Linked DNA regions of Homo sapiens: region 2 is linked to region 1. Evidence: fine-mapped expression QTL. A gene starts in region 1. The other region holds a variant in brackets. All regions are shown on one strand. Distances are between the middles of the regions.

Region 1 (9,709 bases):
TACGATGTGAATCCTACCTGGAAGCTTAACAACACGGCAGCCCGTGCTTCAGAGGGAATGGCTTCCAAACACACAAAGGTGAAAAAAAATCAATATCAACGTTTCCAAAGCATGTTCTACAAAACACTAGTACTAAGGACAAGCAATATGTATTACAGAGAAAAAGAATCTAATAGTCAAGTAAGTTTGGAGTTTGCTAGGTTAAGCAAAGTTTACCAGGTTTCTTTACCATAGGACTTCTCAGTCTTTAACCTACTCATGGTATGGCTTTTCCTGAAGCACCCCAACCACACTTTGGAAAATGCCTGTGTACAGAATTTAGCTAATGCCTAAGAAGCCCAGTCCAGAAGTCACTAAAGATGACTCTAAGGCTTACAGCCTGGAGTCTTTGTGTATCCAGTCTTGGATACACAGGCTAGGAATCATTCACAGGGACCAGACTAAAACCATAAGACTAGGTAAGATACTTCCTCAGAAACCATATTGAGACTATTCTTTCAAAACTTCTTTTGCCTTATCCCATCTCCAGCTTTACTATCTCCTGCTTCTTTCTAGCAAAAAATCTAGAAAAACATAAGGACATCAAGACTTAAAGGGTAGGAATAATAAAAATTAAACTGGAAAACTGCCTGACAAAAGATGGCACAATGCATGTGAAAATCATATTATGATCTATTATAACTACCTAATTTCTCCAAGAAAACTTTTTTGAATGGCAAACCTATGGATCATTTTTTCATTTTTTTGGATCATGAAGCTCTTTAAGAATGCAATGAATGCTATAACCCATCTCCACAGAAAAACACAAATACATACAACATTAAGCCTATTAATTTCAGAGCACTCCATGGGCCTCCTGAGGCCCAACTAAAGAGCTTCAGTTGCCAGCTCCTAGGTCCCTAGGTAACCCAAGCTGCAGGCACTTCATGACAGATAAAGCCTGCAGAGTTACACGACACTTACAAGATACGACTTTAGACAGTGCAGATAAAATGTATATATGCATTGGCCTGAAAAAAATAAAGATAACTTACTTACTAAGTAAAATTTGAGTCATTTAGTCAATACCAAAAGAAGAAGGGCATATGATGGTAATAATATCTCCACAACAAAACAGCTCTGAGAGGTTGATTTCACAAGGTCACATAGCTAATAAATCCCAGATTGTCCACATCCTTGTTCAGTGCTTTGGAACTAAACCACGCCACCTTAAGTACAATAAATATGTTATTACATTGAGTAGGAAAACATTTTCAAAATAAAAATCTCCACCAACCTTCCAAGAATGACTATAATCGGATCTCTTATTTATTTAATCCAATCATTCCATTTTTAGCACGTAAATGCTGACAAATTAAGGAACAAATTATATATATTGGCTTTTGAAAACAAAATGTACTTCTCTCTAGCACAATTAATTTGTATAAATAAGAAAAAACTAAAACAGCAAAACAAATAACAAAAAAATGTAACTTTATAGAATAAACTTGATTATAGACAAAAACATAAACAAGAGTTTGGCAGGCAGGGGTACATGATGTCAAGAACCACATGAAGTTTCTCTGCTTTGGTCACTGGTATTGGAAGAGTCTGGCAGGCAGGGACCAAGCATCTATTATCTGATATCCACTTGGCAGACTACATAAACAGTGAGACCTTGTGGCACAGCAGGAATTAGGTATTCCAACTACTACTTAAAGATCTACACTGACTCAGAGTGTGGCTACAACTCAAATGCTAAACTAAATGTGTGCCTCAGTTTCTCCACTGGAAATGTAATACATTATCTGCCCATCTCCTATCTTTAGAGAGGCAGCACTGCCAATTGGTTAAGAATACAGTCCCTAATTGGTTCAAATTTTGGCTTTGCCACCTACCAACTTTGGCAAGTTAATCTCCTTGTGCCTCAGTTTATTCAACTGCAAAATGGAGTTAACAATAGCACCTATCTCACAGGGTTGCTGTTAGGATTAATTAGAAAAATCTTATAGTGCCTGGCAAGTAACAAGCATTCCATAAACATCAGCTAGTATTATCATTATTTTAAACGAATGACAAGATTAACCAACTTAGTATACCTCTATTACACTTAGGAAATTACAGGCCCTAATTTTTTTTTGCTTTTTAATCATGTGGCTTAACTACTAACTGTTCTTTTTAATATAGCAAGTACACAGCCAATTAGTCCTGTAAAAAAATTCACTGTATACCCTGCCACCTAAAACGTATACATTCATCGAGTTTTAGTTAACTTTTCATCGCAATATAAGCGAACTCCCCCAACCAGTCATAAGTGACTTGCATCCATCCACTTCTACTTTCACAGTCATCACCATATTCCTTAACACCATTATTCTTACCTAGACTATCACAGTGGCCTCCCAACTGCTCCATTCCACTCTTCATGCTGTAGTAGGGAGCTCTTTTAAAAACCTAAATCTAATGTCACTCCTCTGCTTAAAAGCCTGCAATAGTTCCCCATTGTCCTAAACAAGTCCGATCTCCTAATGAGAACTAAGAGGCCTGCAAGATCTAGGGCCACCCTCCCGCTCTGGCTGCTCAGGCTATACAGGCCTTCTTTCACATCGGGCCTCAGAGCCTTCACATATCATGCTCCCCTATCTGGCGTAATCCCCTCTCCCCAGTACCCTAAGCAACGCCTAATCATCTCTGAGATCTCAGCTGAAAGGCGATGAGCGTCTGATACCCTAAACAGGATCAGGTCCTCCTATTACATGCTCTCATAACCCTGATCCTAATACTCTTTTCTGCATCACAAAATTAAACGGCAATAATTATTTAAATGGCTATTTAATACTGTCCTTGTCCAAAAAAATAGAAACACTTAGGAAGATTTGGAACCAAGTCTATCGTTTACTGCTACAACCCAAAGTGCTTACTTGCCAAGTATCTCATACATTGTAGGTGGGCTCAATATATCTATATTGCATAGTAGGAAAAGTGATGAGATCCACGATGGTGAAAAGTAGATCATCCAGAAAATCAGACTAAAGCAGAACACTGGCTGCACTGTATTAAATATGTAAGTTACCACAGGCATTACACTGAAGAGTAAAAACCTGCTTAAACATGGGCAAAATAAAGTTAAGACTGAACTTTCCAATGCAAAATTAAGTTTCTTTGTGCATCCTCAGGTGTTATGTGAAACTGGAGGAGTTCAACTTCAGTTACCAGTAAGAAGATACACAACTAAATCAAGACTGCTGCCACATTTGGCAACAACCTCCTCTCTTCTTGGCAGTAACTGTGAGGCCAAGAGTTGAGTTGGCCAGGGAAGAGTGATTTATCTTCCCACATTTAGAAGTGGTCCCTCTACAACAGGAATGCTGTACCGCTACTGGACTTTGAATTCTAACCTTGTCAAACCAGTACCTTCCCTAAGTATTCAAGTCACTTTTTAAAAAACAAGTTTAAATGGCATCGCAGTCCAATTCGACTTAGAGAAAACAAAGTTGCTCTTTCCAAAAAAAAAAAAAAGTCATTACTCTGGAAAATTAAAAGAAACTGACAGGGGGATGAATAAGGCGCTAAAGGCTGAGAGCTGTCGATGGAAGATGGAGGTCGCTCAGCATAGTATAATAACTACCACCGAGGCCTGGTGGGCAGCAGCTCCCAACCTAGAGCGGACGACCCCAGGTTGGCGTGAAGCAGGCAGGTTTGACAACACCAGACCCCTGCTGTCCGGTTCGTCGCGCTGACCCTGCCAACGCAACAAACGCCCAGACCTTCTCTGCACTATGGATGAGCAGTGTGGCCTGCTCTCGTTCTGCCCTTCCCTGGAAATGCGCGCAAGAAGGGAGGTGGCAAAAATCATGTCCACCGGGGGGGCTCAGGTAAGGGCTGGGGAGGTCTCGGGGTTAAACATTCGGCCCTTTGTTCACCAAGGCAGCAGAGCCCTTGGCGTCCGCAGCTCCTCCTCCCCGACTGCTCCCTGGCGCCAGCGTCTCCCGAGGACAGGCGGCAAGGGCTCGGACGCCCAGGCTTGGCTGCGGGTCGGGATCCCACGGCCTCGGCGGCGCGCGGCCCCTGCCTTTACCTTGTAGACGTCGCCGTAGGTGCCGCTGCCGATGCGCTGAATCAGCTCGAAGTCCTCCTGCGGGTTCCGGCGGGACAAATCGAAGCCGGGGTTCATGGCGGGCCCCAGGTGCCCCCCGCCTCCCTCCCGGGCAGGGGAGGGGGGCCGCTCAGGGGGCCACACGGAGAGAGGGCGCCGCGGCCGGCTCCCGGCTCCCCCGGCGGTCACAATCACCCGGCTCCACGCTGCGGCCGCCGCCGCCGCCGCCGCTCCCCTCACGCCGCTGCGGACGACGACAAGCGGCCAATCGTCCCCGCCCCCCGCGGCCCGCCGCCGCGCCGAACCTGGTCACACCCACAAGGAGAGGAGAACCCTCGCAGCCCCTCGCTCGGGGTGAAACTCCAACATGGCTTCCGCTTTCGCCGCTCCTCCCCCTCCCCTTACTCCGGCTCCTCCAACCTCCTCCCCTTTTCCCGACTCCCGCCCGACTGCGCAGCCGCGATCCCGGAGGGAGCGCGCCAGGCCTGGCGCGCACCCGACCCCTTGCGCGTTCCGGCTCCGCGCGCCTGCCAGGCCGGGGCCGGCGGCGGAACAGCTTGGGACCCGAAACGCCTCGGCTTTTCTGCGGACCCGCGCCCGGCCGCTGCCGCCGGACGCTTGAAAAGGTTTGCCTGGCCCAGGGACCGGGGTTAGGACTAGCAGAAAGTGGCTTCTTTTCGTTTCTGATTCCCCTAACGACAAAGTTGGACCTTGGTCTATCTGGTCCCAGTTCCAAGCAGGTAGCATAGTGGTAATATCCAAGACAGCCAATGTCCCAGCCTTTATTATTTTAGAAGCAGCTACATGTAGGATACCATGGAGTGCTGCAGCCTTTCTGGGATTGCGGGGAGGGGTCACTAAACACACCGTGAGGAAAACCCCCAGGAAAAGTGAGCTGTGCTTGCTTGCCCCTGTCACCGACACTCGGACCCTTGGAGTTGGCCTGCCAGGGTGCAAAGGAGGGCAGGCCAGGAGGGCCGCGAGGGAGGTGTGTGCAGTGGGCAGAGCGTGAAAGCTCCGGGAGGAAAACACGCGGAACAGCTGCCCACCATCCCGCGTGGGAGGCAGGCAGAGCGCAGAACTAAAGCAGTGATTGACCTCCCTCTTCGAAGAGGGTTGGATTATCAAAGACGGGCGGGGACTGCGCAGGCTGTCAAGCAACCCTGTAAAGAAGGGGTGGAGAGTGGACTAGATCTATTACCGCACCTGAAATATAAACACGTGACGATCCGGAAGCTCTTTAGCTGTGACCTTACCTACCCAAAAACCCCACCCTGCTTAAGACCCAGATTGCGCGTCTTACATCTGAGCTATGTGGACTCCAGCTCCGATTGTTAATACTTGCCCAAGAAAGCTTGAGGGTAATGGAAGGTTATTTTTCTGTTCTCATTGAACTTCCCAATAGACATTTGCAGGAGCTTTAATCAATTAGGTGATGGCCACTTTGGCAATACCACGTTGGAGTTTTGCTTCAGAAATGCTTTCCTAATCCCCTTAGGCACCACACCTTCTAACCACTAATATTCCCTAATACCTCGTGGCTCCTGAGAAACTAGGTCTCATCAAACCTGTTAAGGATAAGTATAATAAATTAATAGTAGAGCAAACTACTTAGAGTTAACTGCTTCATACTTTTTCAAAAAATCTTTTGAATCCTTTTGCTCATAGGAAAATTGCATATGTACTAAATTCTCAAATTGTTTACTTTGAGTATCTGTTGACTAAATTGATGTTTGAAAATGGTTATCTCTTCACCTATATAAGTAGCCTTTCAGTTGTGTAATTTTTAATTATTAAATTTTAAAGCATCAGTAATATGAAAGTATCACTTAAATTATTGCCTTAGGAGTGCATATCATTGAATATCTTCTCGATGGATCTACCTTCAGGCTCTGGTATCTTGAGAAACTCCTGACTATAAATGTTATTCCATAGCCAAAGGTCTTGCTTTTGCTTGTTTAAGGTACTTGCCCAGGACCCAGATTACAGGCCTTCCTTCAGTTTGTCCACATTTGGAGAATTGTTTGGCATGTTTAGGCCAAGCGCAAGAATAATTAGCCAAGGATTCAGATAAGCAGACCTGACAAATTATCCCAAATGGAAGCCAGGTCTGCTCTTTTCCTCTGCCTTTTTTTTTTTTTTTTTTTTGAGAAGGAGTTTCGCTCTAGTTGTCCAGGCTTGAGTGCAAGGGTGCAATCTCAGCTCACTGAAACCTCTGCCTCCCGGGTTCTTAGCGATTCTCCTGCCTCAGCCTCCCAAGTAGCTGGGATCACAGGCATGCAACACCACACCCAGCTAATTTTTGTATTTTTAGTAGAGATGGGATTTCTCCTTGTTGGTCAGGCTGCTCTTGAACTCCCGACCTCAGATGATCCGCCTGCCTCGGCCTCCTGAAGTGGTGGGATTACAGGCATGAGCCACTGCACCCGGCCTCTGCCTTTTTAGTGCCAGAAAGCCAAATTCTCAGGACTGAAAGCTGCACAAGAAAGTTCTAATGACTTCAGTGTTTTGTTTGCTGAGATTATCGTCTGTCCAAATAACTTTGCATTTGCATCACTAATAGACTGCTTTCAAAAGGAAAAGACATTTCAGTAGGGCTAGAACAGTCTTTAAAGTTTTGTCTGTTCCATTTTGGCAGGGCCAAGCTAGTCCTTTTGAGAAGAGATGAATTTCCATGTAAGGGCCTGATTTGCCATGTGGGTTACAACATAAGTAAAACAACTGCTCACAAAGAAAATATTTTGTTTTTTGTAATATATGCATGTGGCCAATTCCAGTGCCTTTTCCCCCTGTTCTAACAATCCTCAGTTTTGCTAGAAGTAACACTAATGATCACACTTTCCTAGAATCAGAGAAAGAGCTTCCCTCTTCTATGATTAGAAGCATTCTTAGAAGTCATCTAATCTTTTTAACTCAGGAACTGCTTCTACAGCATCTCTGCTGGATTTGCTGCTGCTTGAATACTTTCAATAAAAGGTGACTCATTGCTTCCCAAAACAACCCACCTCGTTGTGATACAGTGCTAGTAAATGATCATAATAACTAGGAGAAAAGTAGTAATTTCTAACATTGCTAAGTGCTTACAAGATACCAGGAATGGAGCCAAGTATTTTTCATGTGTTATTTCATTTAATTCGCACAACAACCTAATGACATAGGTAATATTATCTCCATTTTATGAGGCACAGACAGATTAAACTGCTCAAGGTAACACAGAAGGCTGAAATTTGAACAAAGGCAGTATGACACCAAGGCTAGATTCTTAGCCACTAGTCTATACTCTGCTTATATACAATATACTGTAAAAAATTTCTCTTATGGTAAGCCAACCTCTACCTCCCTGTAATGTATTTAGAGGCAATGATTATTAGATTCTGGTGGTATTGAATACAGAAAAGAAAAGCCACAATGCCTTCCCTCAAGGAGTTGACAGTCTCATAAATAGTGTGAGAAGCACAGAGAAGGGACATTAATGCAGACGGGAGGAAGATTTAGGAATGACCCCTTGGCTGGGCGCAGTGGCTCATGCCTGTAATCCCAACACTTTGGGAGGCCGAGGCGGGTGGATCACCTGAGGTCAGGAGTTCAAGACCAGCCTGGCCAACATGGTGAAACCCCATCTCTACTAAAAATACAAAAATTAGCTGGGCGCGGTGGCACGTCCCCTGTAATCACAGCTACTCGGGAGGCTGAGGCAGGAGAATCACTTGAGCCGGGAGGTGGAGGTTGCAGTGAGCTGAGACTGCACCATTGCACTCCAGCCTGGGCAACAGAGGAAGCGTCCGTCTCAAAAAAAAAAAAAAAAAAAAAAAAAGGAATAACCCTAAAGCTGAACCTTGAAAAATGCATAGGCAGACAAGGGAAAGTGGTGCATGACAGGCTGGCTGCTTAGCGCCTTGAAGCACCTACCCGTTTAAGCATCACACAGCAAGGAACACAAGAAGGCCAAGATAGGCAGCAGTCCCCACCTGCCAGCATGTCCAGGCCATCCTTCTATTGCCCCATCCCCCATGGGTTTCTGGCTTAGGAACCCCTTGATCCCCTGCACAGGCTCCCAATTTCATCCTCGACCTCTTGTCTGACAACTCACTGGAGCCCCTTCTTTGGCCTATTAACCTCAGCCCTCCTCATATAACATAACCACCACTCACATTTTCAGTACATTAGCTGCTCTGGAAACAGGATACTGAGCAAGCCTTAGCTCAAAAAAATGCCAGAAGCAGGTCATCCACCAGGGGAGGAAAATCACACAGAGAGCATGTATGTGAAATAATATGGCACATACAACAGACAATTGTGCTTAAATTCTGAAGACAGAGGGAGATGGTGGCAATGGAGCTAAAAAAATCAGGTTTCTTTTTTTAATTAAAAAATTTTTATTTATGGCCAGGCGCTGTGGCTCACACCTCTAATCCCAGCACTTTGGGAGGCCGAGGCGGGTGGATCACCTGGGGTCAGGAGTTTGAGACCAGCCTGACCAACATGGTGAAACCCTGTCTCCACTAAAAAAAATACAAAACTTAGCCGGGAGTGGTACCACGTGCCTGTAATCCTAGCTATTCCGGAGGCTGAGGCATGAGAATCGCTTGAACCTGGGAGGAGGAGGTTGCAGTAAGCTGAGATTGCACCACTGCACTCCAGCCTGAGTGACAGAGTGAGATTCTATCATTAAAAAAAAATTATTTATGTATTTCATTTCTCCCCAGCTTTAAATTGAGGCATAATGGGCAAATAAAAATTGAATGTCTTTACAGTGTACAATGTGATGTTTTGATATATGTATATGTTTTGAAATGATTACTACAGACCAGCTAGAAAAATTTACTTACAAAATTCAAACATGCTTAAGAAAAATTTATACTTTTTTTAAAAAGTCAGAAACTGGCTTGTGAGGAGCTGGTTTTCAGGTGGGTTATCATATGTTTAAGCTGCAGAGACTTCCAAAAGGTTATACAGCCTTACCTAGTACAGCTCTGAACCAGGCTACCTAGGTTTAAATCTTATCTCTGTTCCCTGACTGAAAAACCTTGGGAAGTTATTTAAAACTATAGCTGTTTTGATTAATCAAAAAGAAAATACAGGGAAAGGAGTGCCTGGCACTATAGTAACCCCACAAAATATTAATTATTATTATTTTGAGTGTTCTTTTTTCTTTTTCTTTCTTTTTTTTTTTTTTTTGTTTGAGACAGAGTTTTGCTCTTGTTGCCCAGCCTGGAGTGCAATGGCACAATCTTAGCTCACCGCAACCTCCGCCTCCTGGGTTCAAGCGATTCTCCTGCCTCAGCCTCCTGAGTAGCTGGGATTACAGGCATGCGCCACCATGCCTGGCTAATTTTGTATTTTTAGTAGAGATGGGGTTTGTCCATGTTGGTCAGGCTGGTCTCAAACTCCTAACCTCAAGTGATCCGCCCACCTCTGCCTCCCAAAGTGCTGGGATGACGCATGAGCCGCCGCACCCGGCCTATTTTGGTTGTTGTAAAGACATTCTAAAGATGCCAGTCTTATAATGTCAGTTCTAAAGATGACAGTCATGGAGATGGAGATGAAGATATGACTTAGGAAGCAATTACGATAACATATATAAGAGACCCTGAATTAGGGTCTGGAGTGCTGAGAATGGAGAAGAGAGAAATA
Region 2 (9,709 bases), 55 kb after region 1:
CTTTCATCCTGTCACAAATTGGTTCAGCAGCAGAGGAGTTAATATGCACAAGCACTTTTCTTTGTCATAGGACGACATTCCATTTGAGTCCTTTAAGGATGTGCTGGAAAGGGAGTGGGGAAGTTACACCGCAAATATTATCTTCCCCAGATGCAAACAAGTTTCTTTACTAGTAGAACTGGAAAATATGTGCCACTTGCTAATTTTTTACTTCTAAACTTTTGTTAGGCTGTTAAATTTGGTGAATAATACCATGAATTATTATTATAAAGATTAGCACATCTATTTACAATAGAATATTTCAAACAGACAGAAAAGCATACAAAATAATATGACAAAAAATCATCTATCTACAATCCAGCCCTAAGTGCTAGATAGTATTTCATGTAATAAAATTTTGCCATATTTGCTTCAGATCTCCCTTTTTCCCTCCCTCCCCCTTTTGCCCTCTTCCTCCCTCCCTTTTTTCCCCTTTCCTCTGTTTCTTCCAAGTTAAAACCTTTTTTTCCTCAACAAGCCACCAGAAGTGCTGACAAAGTTAAAATCATATAGATGTAGTTAAAACCCCTGAAACCAATCTATCTCATTCCTCTCTTGTGATCTGCAGGGTGACAACTACCCTGAATTTAGAGTTTTAATTCCTCTGTGTATTTTTATATTATTTAAAATTTTTTTTAATAAGAGCTGGAGTCTTCCTGTGTTGCCCAGGGTGAAGGGCAGTGCCTATTCACAGGTGCAATCCACTATGATCAGCACAGGAGTTTTGACCTGCTCTGCTTCCCACACAGGTGGGTTCACCTTTCCTTAGGCAACCAGGTAGCCCTCTGCTCCTGGGAGGTCACTATATGATGCCCAGAACTAGTGGGCTCAAGCAATCCTCCCGCCTCAGCCTCCCAAGTAGCTGGGTCTATAGGCACACACCACCACACCCAGCTATTTTTTATATTTATACTATATATGTATCCATAAGACATAAAGTTGATTTGCAAGTTTTTCATCATTAAATGATATATTATGCGCTTTCTTCTTAATCTCTCACTCAACATGTATTAATACTCATCTTTTTTTTTTTTTTCTAAACAGTCTCACTCTGTTCACCAGGCTGGAGTGCAATGGTGTGATCATGACTCACTGAAGCCTTGACCTCCTGGGCTGAAGCAATCTTCCTGCCTCAGCCCTGCAAGTAGCTGGGCCTACGGGCACACGCCGCCATGCCTAGCTAATTTTTGTATTTTTTGTAGAAACAGGGTTTCACATGTTGCCCAGACTAGTCATGACCTCCTTAGCTCAAGTGAGCCACCTGTCTCAGCCTCCCAAAGTGCTGGGATTTCAGGTGTGAGCCACCATGGTTGGCCCCTAATACACATCTTTTTTTTTTTTTTCTTTTTTTTTTGAGATGGATTCTCACTCTGTCTCTCAGGCTGGAGTGCAGTGGCACGATCTTGGCTCACTGCAGCCTCTGCCTCCCAGGTTGAAGCGATTCTCCTGCCTCAGCCTCCCGAGTAGCTGGATTACAGGCGCTTGCCACCACGCTCTGCTAATTTTTGTATTTTTAGTAAAGATGGGTTTTGCCATGTTGGCCAGGCTGGTCTTGAACTTCTGGTCTCAAGTGATCCGCCCTCCTCAGCCTCCCAAAGTGCTGGGATTACAGGTGTGAGCCACTGCGTCAGGCCAATACACATCTTCTAGTTTATTTAAAGTGCTAGATAGTATTTCATTGTATAAAAAGACCACAGTTTATTCATTCTTTTGTTGATAGATCTTTAAATTGTTTCCATTATTTTTCCCTTACAAACAATGCATGATAAATGTTTTTGTATGTGTCTCCTTGTGAGAGTTATATATCTAGGTGTGACATCACTGGGTTCTATCACAAGTCTTTGGAAGTAATTTTTATGTGGATAGTGCAACAATATGACTAGTTACTTAAAAGAAAAAAATTAAGTCAAGATAAGTGGCGGAAGACACAGAAATTCAGAAATAGGATGTAAAATAGTAATGGAATAGTAGGTAAATTAGATACATAATCCTATGCCTTTTTTTTTCTTTTTGAGACGGAGTCTCGCACTGTCGCCAAGGCTGGAGTGCAGTGGCGCCATCTCGGCTCACTGCAAGCTCTGCCTCCGGGGTTCACACCATTCTCCTGCCTCAGCCTCCCGAATAGCTGGGACTGTAGGCGCCCGCCACATGCCCGGCTAATTTTTTGTATTTTTACTAGAGGCAGGGTTTCACGGTGTTAGCCAGGATGGTTTCAATGTCCTGACCTTGTCATCCGTCCGCCTCAGCCTCGCAAAATGCTGGTATTACAGGCATGAGCCACTCCGCCTGGCGACAATCCTATGCTTTTTTAAAAAGGTAGTTCATCTTTTGGCTGGGCATGGTGGCTCATGTCTGTAATCCCAGCACTTTGGGAGGCTGAGGCAGGAGGATCACTTGAGGTCAAGAGTTTGAGACCAGCCTGACCAACATGGTGAAACCCTGTCTCTACTAAAGGTACAAAAATTAGCTGGGTGTGGTGGTGCACACCTGTAATCCCAGCCACTTGGGAGACTGAGGCAGGAGAATCACGTGAACATGGGAGGCGGAGGTTGCGGTGAGCTGAGATCACGCCATTGTACGCCAGCTTGGGCAACAGAGCAAGACTCCAGCTCAAAAAAAAAAAAAAAAGGGAAACATTAATGAAAAGGTAATTCATCTTTTGAAAAAAAAAGTAGAGTGAACATACTGAACATCACAGATTTTCATCTACATTTAAGATGCTAGCTTTAGGCTGGGCGAGGTGGCTCATGCCTGTAATCCCAGCACTTTGGGAGGCCAAGGTGGGTGGATCACCTGAGATCAGGAATTCGAGACCAGCTTGACCAATATGGTAAAACCCTATCTCTACTAAAAATACAAAAATTAGCTGGCATGGTGGCGTGCACCTGTAGTCCCAGCTACTTAGGAGGCTGAGACAGGAGAATTGTTTGAACCTGGGAGGCGGAGGTTGCAGTGAGCTGAGATTGGGTCACTGCACTCCAGCCTGGGCAAGAGAGTGAAACGCTGCCTCACAAAAAAAAAAAAAAAAAAAAAAAAAGATGCTACCTTTAGTGTCACTGCTTCTGTGAAGCCTTCCAAAAATTGCCTTTTTTTCAATTACTTTCTCCTTTTGACCTCCATTCTCTCTACCTCTGTTATATGATATTGTGCATTATATTTGCTGTGGTTTGTTTATATCTCTCTCAGCAGGCTGAATGTGTTTTGAAGGTGGAGTTCATGTCTTATTCGTATCCCCAGGGTGTGGTGTGCAGTTGGTGGTTAAGTCTGAGGAATGAATGAATGGCCCAAATCACCGAAGATCTTTCAGAGGTGGCAGTGGGGTTTCTTTTTTTCTTTTCGAGATGGAGTCTTACTCTGTCATCCAGGCTGGAGTGCAGTGGCACAATCTCAGCTCACCGCAACCTCTGCCACCCAGGTTCAAGTGATTCTCCTGCCTCAGCCTCCCGAGTAGCTGGGATTGCAGGCACGCACCACCACGTCTGGCTAATTTTTTTATTTTTGGTAGAGATGGGGTTTCACCATGTTGGCCAGGCTAGTCTTGAACTCCTGACCTCAAGTGAACTACCTGCCTCAGCCTCCCAAAGTGCTGGGATTACAGGCGTGAGCCACTGTGCCCACTGGCAGTGGGTTTCTGATGATAGGATAGTTTCATGAAAGTTAGCTTAAAGTACAAAAAACTTTTTTTTTTTCTTTTTTTGAGACAGTCTCATGCTCTGTCCTCCAGGCTGGAGTTCAGTGATCTTGGCTTACTGCAACCTCTGCCTCCTGGGTTCACGCCATTCTCCTGCCTCAGCCTCCTGAGTGGCTGGGACTACAGGTGTGCACCACCA[C/T]GCCTGGCTAATTTTTTGTATTTTTAGTAGAGACAGGGTTTCACCATGTTAGCCAGGATGGCCTCGATCTCCTGACCTCGTGATCTGCCCGCCTCGGCCTCCCAAAGTGCTGGGATTACAGGCATGAGCCACCGTGCCCAGTGAAAAAGCTTTGATCCTTTGTCTTCAATTGCACCTATGAAAAGGAAGTTTCGTATAAAAGCTGATATAAATGGCTAATAAAGCAGAGAAATAGCTTAAAATTTGACTGTAGACATTTGCTATGTATGATTAATATGTATCAGTTTACAGTTAATTTTAGGAAAACTTAAATTTTATAAATTGCCAAGAAATCACCCATGAAAAACTAATTTTCACTTAGCGGTTTAATTTTTTAACATTAGGATTTTTAAGTTTCGCTAGTCTTATCATCTGGGACACTGGAATTTTGTCTTGTTGGAATTGCTGATTAAACAAAATAATTCTTCAAAAGTGCTTAGCACAATGTTAGGTAAATAGTAAGCACTAAGTAAACATTGGCTTTATTATTATTAGGTGGTCCTATACTATGATTCCTCCTATTTATATCACGTGTGTCTTGCTGCATATTTAAGGACGCTCCCATCTATATGTTTGGACTAGTGCAATAGTAAAGCTGCCAGCTCAGGTGAAGAAAACCATTTAAAAATTTAAAGTTAAGCACATGATGGAAAATTCTTGAATATGTGGTGAGTTAGGTATAAAAAATATAGGGGGATTGTATTGTTGAATACAAAAAAGCCATTAGACTATTTTAAGAATGCTCTCTTCTGTCATTAGGGCTTGGTTATGAATAGTATATCACATGCATGAAAGGAGGTGGTGGCTAGTTTCATTTCCCTAAAACATGTTTCAATGGTAAATTAGAGGCAGCTGTGGTTTACTGACGCATAAACCCAGTGAGGTCTATGATAACTAGTATATATTTACAGTTTGACTCATGGTGCCTGTCAGGCTTTAATCATAGGGGAAGAAGTGATAGTACTTAGACTTCACTGTTTAATCTTCCGTTCATTTGTTTTCCAAGTTTGTTTCAGTCTGTGGGCAGGTTCCCTTTTGATTGCAACATGCAGTCCCTATTTCTGCAGTTTATCTTCATTTGCCATTTTGAGAGGGCTATGAAAGTCCTATGATAAGCTCCTTGTTCTCCAAATCCATGCATATAAGTCTCATCGAGTTGGATGCATTCTAAAGACATTTTGAAATCACATCAACACTTTCAGATCAGCAAGTTATTTCTTAATAAATTACTGTCTTAATGTTAGATGCTATTTTAAAAACACGAAAGAGAGCAGTTTCCAAATATGTGTTACTACTTCCAGGGAATTGTAAACTGGAGTGTTTAATTAAAAGAAGGCCCTAAATTTTTATTATGCTGTCACTGGATATTTGAATAACTAGCTGTAAATGAGTTCTAGTTGTACAAAAGTGATTTTCTAAATCCAGTTGTCCCTATTTCAAAATATAGTTCTAGTTCCTGGGTGAAACTGAAAATGAAATGGCCATGTCTTTATAACTAAAACAAATTAGAGGGTTGCAGCAATAAAATGAACCCACAGAGGGGAAAAAAACCCTTTGAATCAGGTTTTTATTTTCTTCTCCTGAACTGATTGGGTAATTTACTCAACTAATTTTGTCTAGTCATTAGGAAGTTAATACTCCATTCTATAATTTCCTTCCACTCAAGTGAGCAATACTGGTGCATATAATTTGGATTAAGAACATTCCTCTACTCTTACAAATATTTGGATATATGCCTTGAATATGCTTCCTCATTTAGGCCACAGAAATTTATTCAAAGACAAATCAATCAAAGATAATAACATTAACTACTATTTATTAAGCATCTCCTTCATGACAAGACTTTTTCCCATATTGAGATATAATTGACAATTGAAAATTGTACATATTTAAAGTGTACAACATGATGATTTGATATGCATATATATCCATGCATATATATCCATATCCATATCCATGCATATATATGGATATATATGCATATATATGCATATCAAATCATGTCGTACACTTTAAATATGTACATATTTCAATTATGCATATATATGCATATATCCATATCAAATCATATATATATAATATGCATATATATCATATACATATCCATCACCTCACATAGTTACCATTTTCTTTTGTTCTCTCTCTCTTTCTTCCTTCCTTTCTTTCCCTTCTTTTTTATTTTTTGGTGGTGAGAACACTTAAGATCCACCCTCTTAGCAAATTTCAAGTATATAATATAGTGTTGCTAATTGTAGTCACATCGTTGTAGAATACATCTCCAGAATTCATTCATTTGGATAACTGAAACTCTGTAACCCTTTTCCAATATCTCCCCATTCCTCTATCCCTCCAGCTCATGGCAACCAACATTCCACTCTCTGCTGTTCTAAGTTTGACTACTTTAGTTTTTACATATAAGTGAAATCAACACAGTATTTGTTTTTCTGTGTCTCGCTTAGTTTACTTAGCTTAATGTTCTTCAGGTTCATTCATGTTGTAAATGACAGGATTTCCTTTTGTTTTGAAGGCTGCATAATATTCTGTTGTATATGTATACCATATTTTCTTCATCCATTCATCTGTTGATGGACATTTAGGTTGTTTTCATATCTTGGCTATCATGAATAATGCTGCAATGAACGTAAGAGTAGAGATATCTCTTAGAAATCCTGATTTTCCTTTTTTTTTTCAGACAGTCTTGTCACCCAGGCTGAAGTGCAGTGGCATGATCTCGGCTCACTGCAACCTCCGCTTCTTGGGTTCAAGTGATTCTCCTGCCTCAACCTCTGGAGTAACTGGGATTATAGGCATATGTCACCATGCCCGGCTAATTTTCTTATTTTTAATAGAGATGGGGTTTCATCATGTTGGCCAGGCTGGTCTGGAACTCCTGACCTCAGGTGATCTGCCCGCCTCGGCCTCCCACAGTGCTGGGATTACAGGTGTGAGCCACCGTGCCTGGCCTATTTGATCATCTTTTACAGCTTAGGGAATTAAGGTTTAGATGTGGCACAGGACAGAAACATACTTTGAAGATAGGTCTGTTTGACTTCAAAACCTGTGCTCTTTGCCAGGTGCAGTGGCTCACGCCTGTAATCACAGCACTTTGCAAGGCCAAGGCAGGAGGATCACTTGAGGTCAGGAGTTTGAGACCAGCCTGGCCAATATGGCAAAACCCTGTTTCTATTAAAAATGCAAATATTAGCCAGTCATGGTGGTGTGCTCCTGTAATCCCAGCTACTTGGGAGGCTGAGGCACGAGAATCACCTGAATCCCGGAGGTGGAGGTTGCAGTGAGCTGAGATCGTGCCACTGCACTCCAGCCTGGGTGACAGAGTGATAGTCTATCTCAAAAAAAAAAAAAAAAACAAAAAACAAAAAACCCCCACAAAACCCACAAAACCAAACCAAAAAACCTGTGCTCCTTACTGTGCTCTCCTGCCTCTCAGTGCGAGATAAACAGAGTGGGCAAAATAGCCTATGATGTCATCATCCGCAAGGCCTGTTGCTACTGTGTGATGCCTGCTCCCTAGATGACCTCCTGGGGGGGTGAAGCGAGAGGAAATCTGGCACCAAGCTGGTTGAGGGGCAGAGCGAGAATGTCTGGGCTTCCCCCACCCAGCTTGGAATGTGAGTGATGCAAATCATCTCATCGAAGGCTCAACTGCAGCCAGGAGACTCCTCCAGTGATGATGAGAGTGTACAAATGAAGTGCAGGAGCGGGGGAGCCTTCACACACCTCCAGCCCTTCCTGCTTCTTGAAATACTCATATCCTCTGGCAGAGACTAGCTACAGAAATCCATGTCCACTTACTCACAGCCTGAAAGAAACCCACACAGTGGACCAGGAAGGTTGTTGCATGGTAATTAGAGCTACTATTGAATTTCTATTGTGCATCTTCTCAATTAGGCACAATTACCACATATAAGAAATGAGGAAATTAAGACTCAGAGGAATTAGGTGAATTGCCCAAGGTTATTACATAGCTTATACCTGGCCAACCAGGGTTTAAACATTGTTCTATATCCTAATCCAAGACCCATGTTCCTCTCACTACTCAGGTTTATTTCTTTCGCACAGGGATATTACAAAGTCATTATATTTCCTGATTATATTTTTGCTGCTGCTGTATGACCATCTCGTTTCTTGTCACTGACTTTATCCAAAAGCAAGAACATGGTATGGAATTTTGGGGGAAGCAGTTGAAATGAAGTGTTGGAATTTCAGAGCTTGCATTACTGGATTATGTGTGGATTGTTGTTTGTACTGCCTCTTTCTTCCTCCTGCTACCTCATATAGGTGCTTGATATCTGATTATTACAGTCTTTTTAGGGGTTCTTGAACATACTCACTTGTAGAAAAGTGCTGGTTAAAATCATAACAGGCAGACATTTGGGTTCTTATAGCCTTGCAATAAATGGAAGGAAGTAACTTTTGGGCTTATGAAAATGTATACTGCAAGGTTTTTCTTTCTTTCTTTCTTTCTTTCTTTCTTTCTTTCTTTCTTTCTTTCTTTCTTTCTTTTTCTTCCTTCCTTCCTTCTTCCTTCCTTCCTTTCTTCCTTTCTTCCTTCCTTCCTTCCTTTCTTCCTTTCTTCCCTTCTTTCTTTCTTTCTTGAGACAGGGTCTCGCTCCATCACCCAGGCTGGAGTGCTCACTGCAAGGATCCTCCTGCCTCAGCCTCCCAAGTAGCTAGGACTACAGGCATAGCCACCATGCCTGGCTAACTTTTCTTATTTTTTGTTTTATGTAGAGACAGTATCTTGCTGTGTTGCCTAGGCTGGTCTCAAACTCCTGGCTTCAAGGGATGCCCCCACCTTGGTCTTCCAAAATTCTGAGATTATAGGCACGACCCACCATGCCCAGTGGTTTTCTTAAAGTTCTCTGCAAGGTGTAGATAGTTTCATGAGTAAGATGATTAGTCAGTACAGTAGCAACATTAGGTAATTGGTTTTGCCATTTCGAGCTTGTAGCAAATTATCCATTCTTATATGACAAAGCCTATGGGACAACTGGAGGACTTGAACTGTTTCTCTTCAGTGCCCGTAAAGAAGGGACTGAAGCTTCATAAATCTAGTCCTTCACTCTCCTAGCTCTGATCCTGTCCTTTCTGTAAGTAATGATCATATTGCCTTCAGTAGGTGTTTGTCAAGTCTGTATTTTGTTTTAGAGACAGGAGCTCGCTTTGCTGCCCAGGCTGGACTCGAACTCCTGGGCTCACTTTATCCTCCTGCCTCAGCCTCTCTGAGTAGCTGGGACTACAAGCACTGCCATGGAGACCAATTTGTCAAGCATTTTAATACCATCTCATCACTGTAATGATCAACACATGTGATCTAAAAATCTTTTACATGGCAGTGGAAAGGGCTTGAGCCATCTCCGTATTAAAACCCAGGTGGTATCCTCATCCTTTAATCTTGAAATGTTGAAAGAGTTGATTAGCTGTCCTTGCTAGCTATCTCTAGGAAGGATAGCTAATAACTGTTTTGCTTTTGCTTTTGTGTGTGTGTGTGTATATATATTTATATGTATATATGTGTGTATATATATACAAAAGCAAAAGCAAGACAGTATTTGAAATTTGAAGACATTGATTCTCATAACCAGTCTATTTCAGGATTAAATCACATAACCACCAATCTCTGCCAACCCACTTTCCAGTAACCACCCCACCTCCAATTTCCTGTAAATAGCAAACACTCTGTAGTATTTCATCTACAGGGAGCACTGTTGAGTAGCTGGAGTAGTAACAGTATTTGCTTATTTTTTTACTTGAGAAGGCTTTTTGTTTGTTTTGAGATT

Alleles and levels. Positions count from the first base shown, and alleles are read on the strand shown. Sizes are in standard deviations (SD) of each study's normalised expression.
In carriers of allele C in region 2, the expression in esophagus mucosa of the gene that starts at base 4,582 in region 1 tends to be higher than with T alone (small effect, 0.40 SD a copy in GTEx).

Evidence for each region. PIP is the estimated chance that this variant, and not a neighbour inherited with it, causes the effect.
Region 2: its variant is fine-mapped to the expression of MAP4K3-DT in esophagus mucosa (GTEx, PIP 0.94).

The regions. Positions count from the first base shown.
Region 1 is chr2:39,432,835-39,442,543 of GRCh38, forward strand. MAP4K3-DT (MAP4K3 divergent transcript) reads left to right here and starts at 4,582. Exons shown (of 6, transcript NR_037875.1): 1 at 4,582-4,701. It overlaps MAP4K3 (mitogen-activated protein kinase kinase kinase kinase 3), which reads right to left and starts at 4,451. Exons shown (of 34, transcript NM_003618.4): 1 at 4,058-4,451. The coding sequence starts at 4,153. RefSeq lists an enhancer at 3,645-3,724 and silencers at 4,055-4,414, 4,485-4,704.
Region 2 is chr2:39,487,510-39,497,218 of GRCh38, forward strand. The region is part of intron 3 of MAP4K3-DT (MAP4K3 divergent transcript); the gene reads left to right. Among named protein-coding and RNA genes, the nearest start is that of MAP4K3-DT, 55 kb to the left of the region's middle. The variant C/T (reference allele first, on the strand shown) is at 3,870.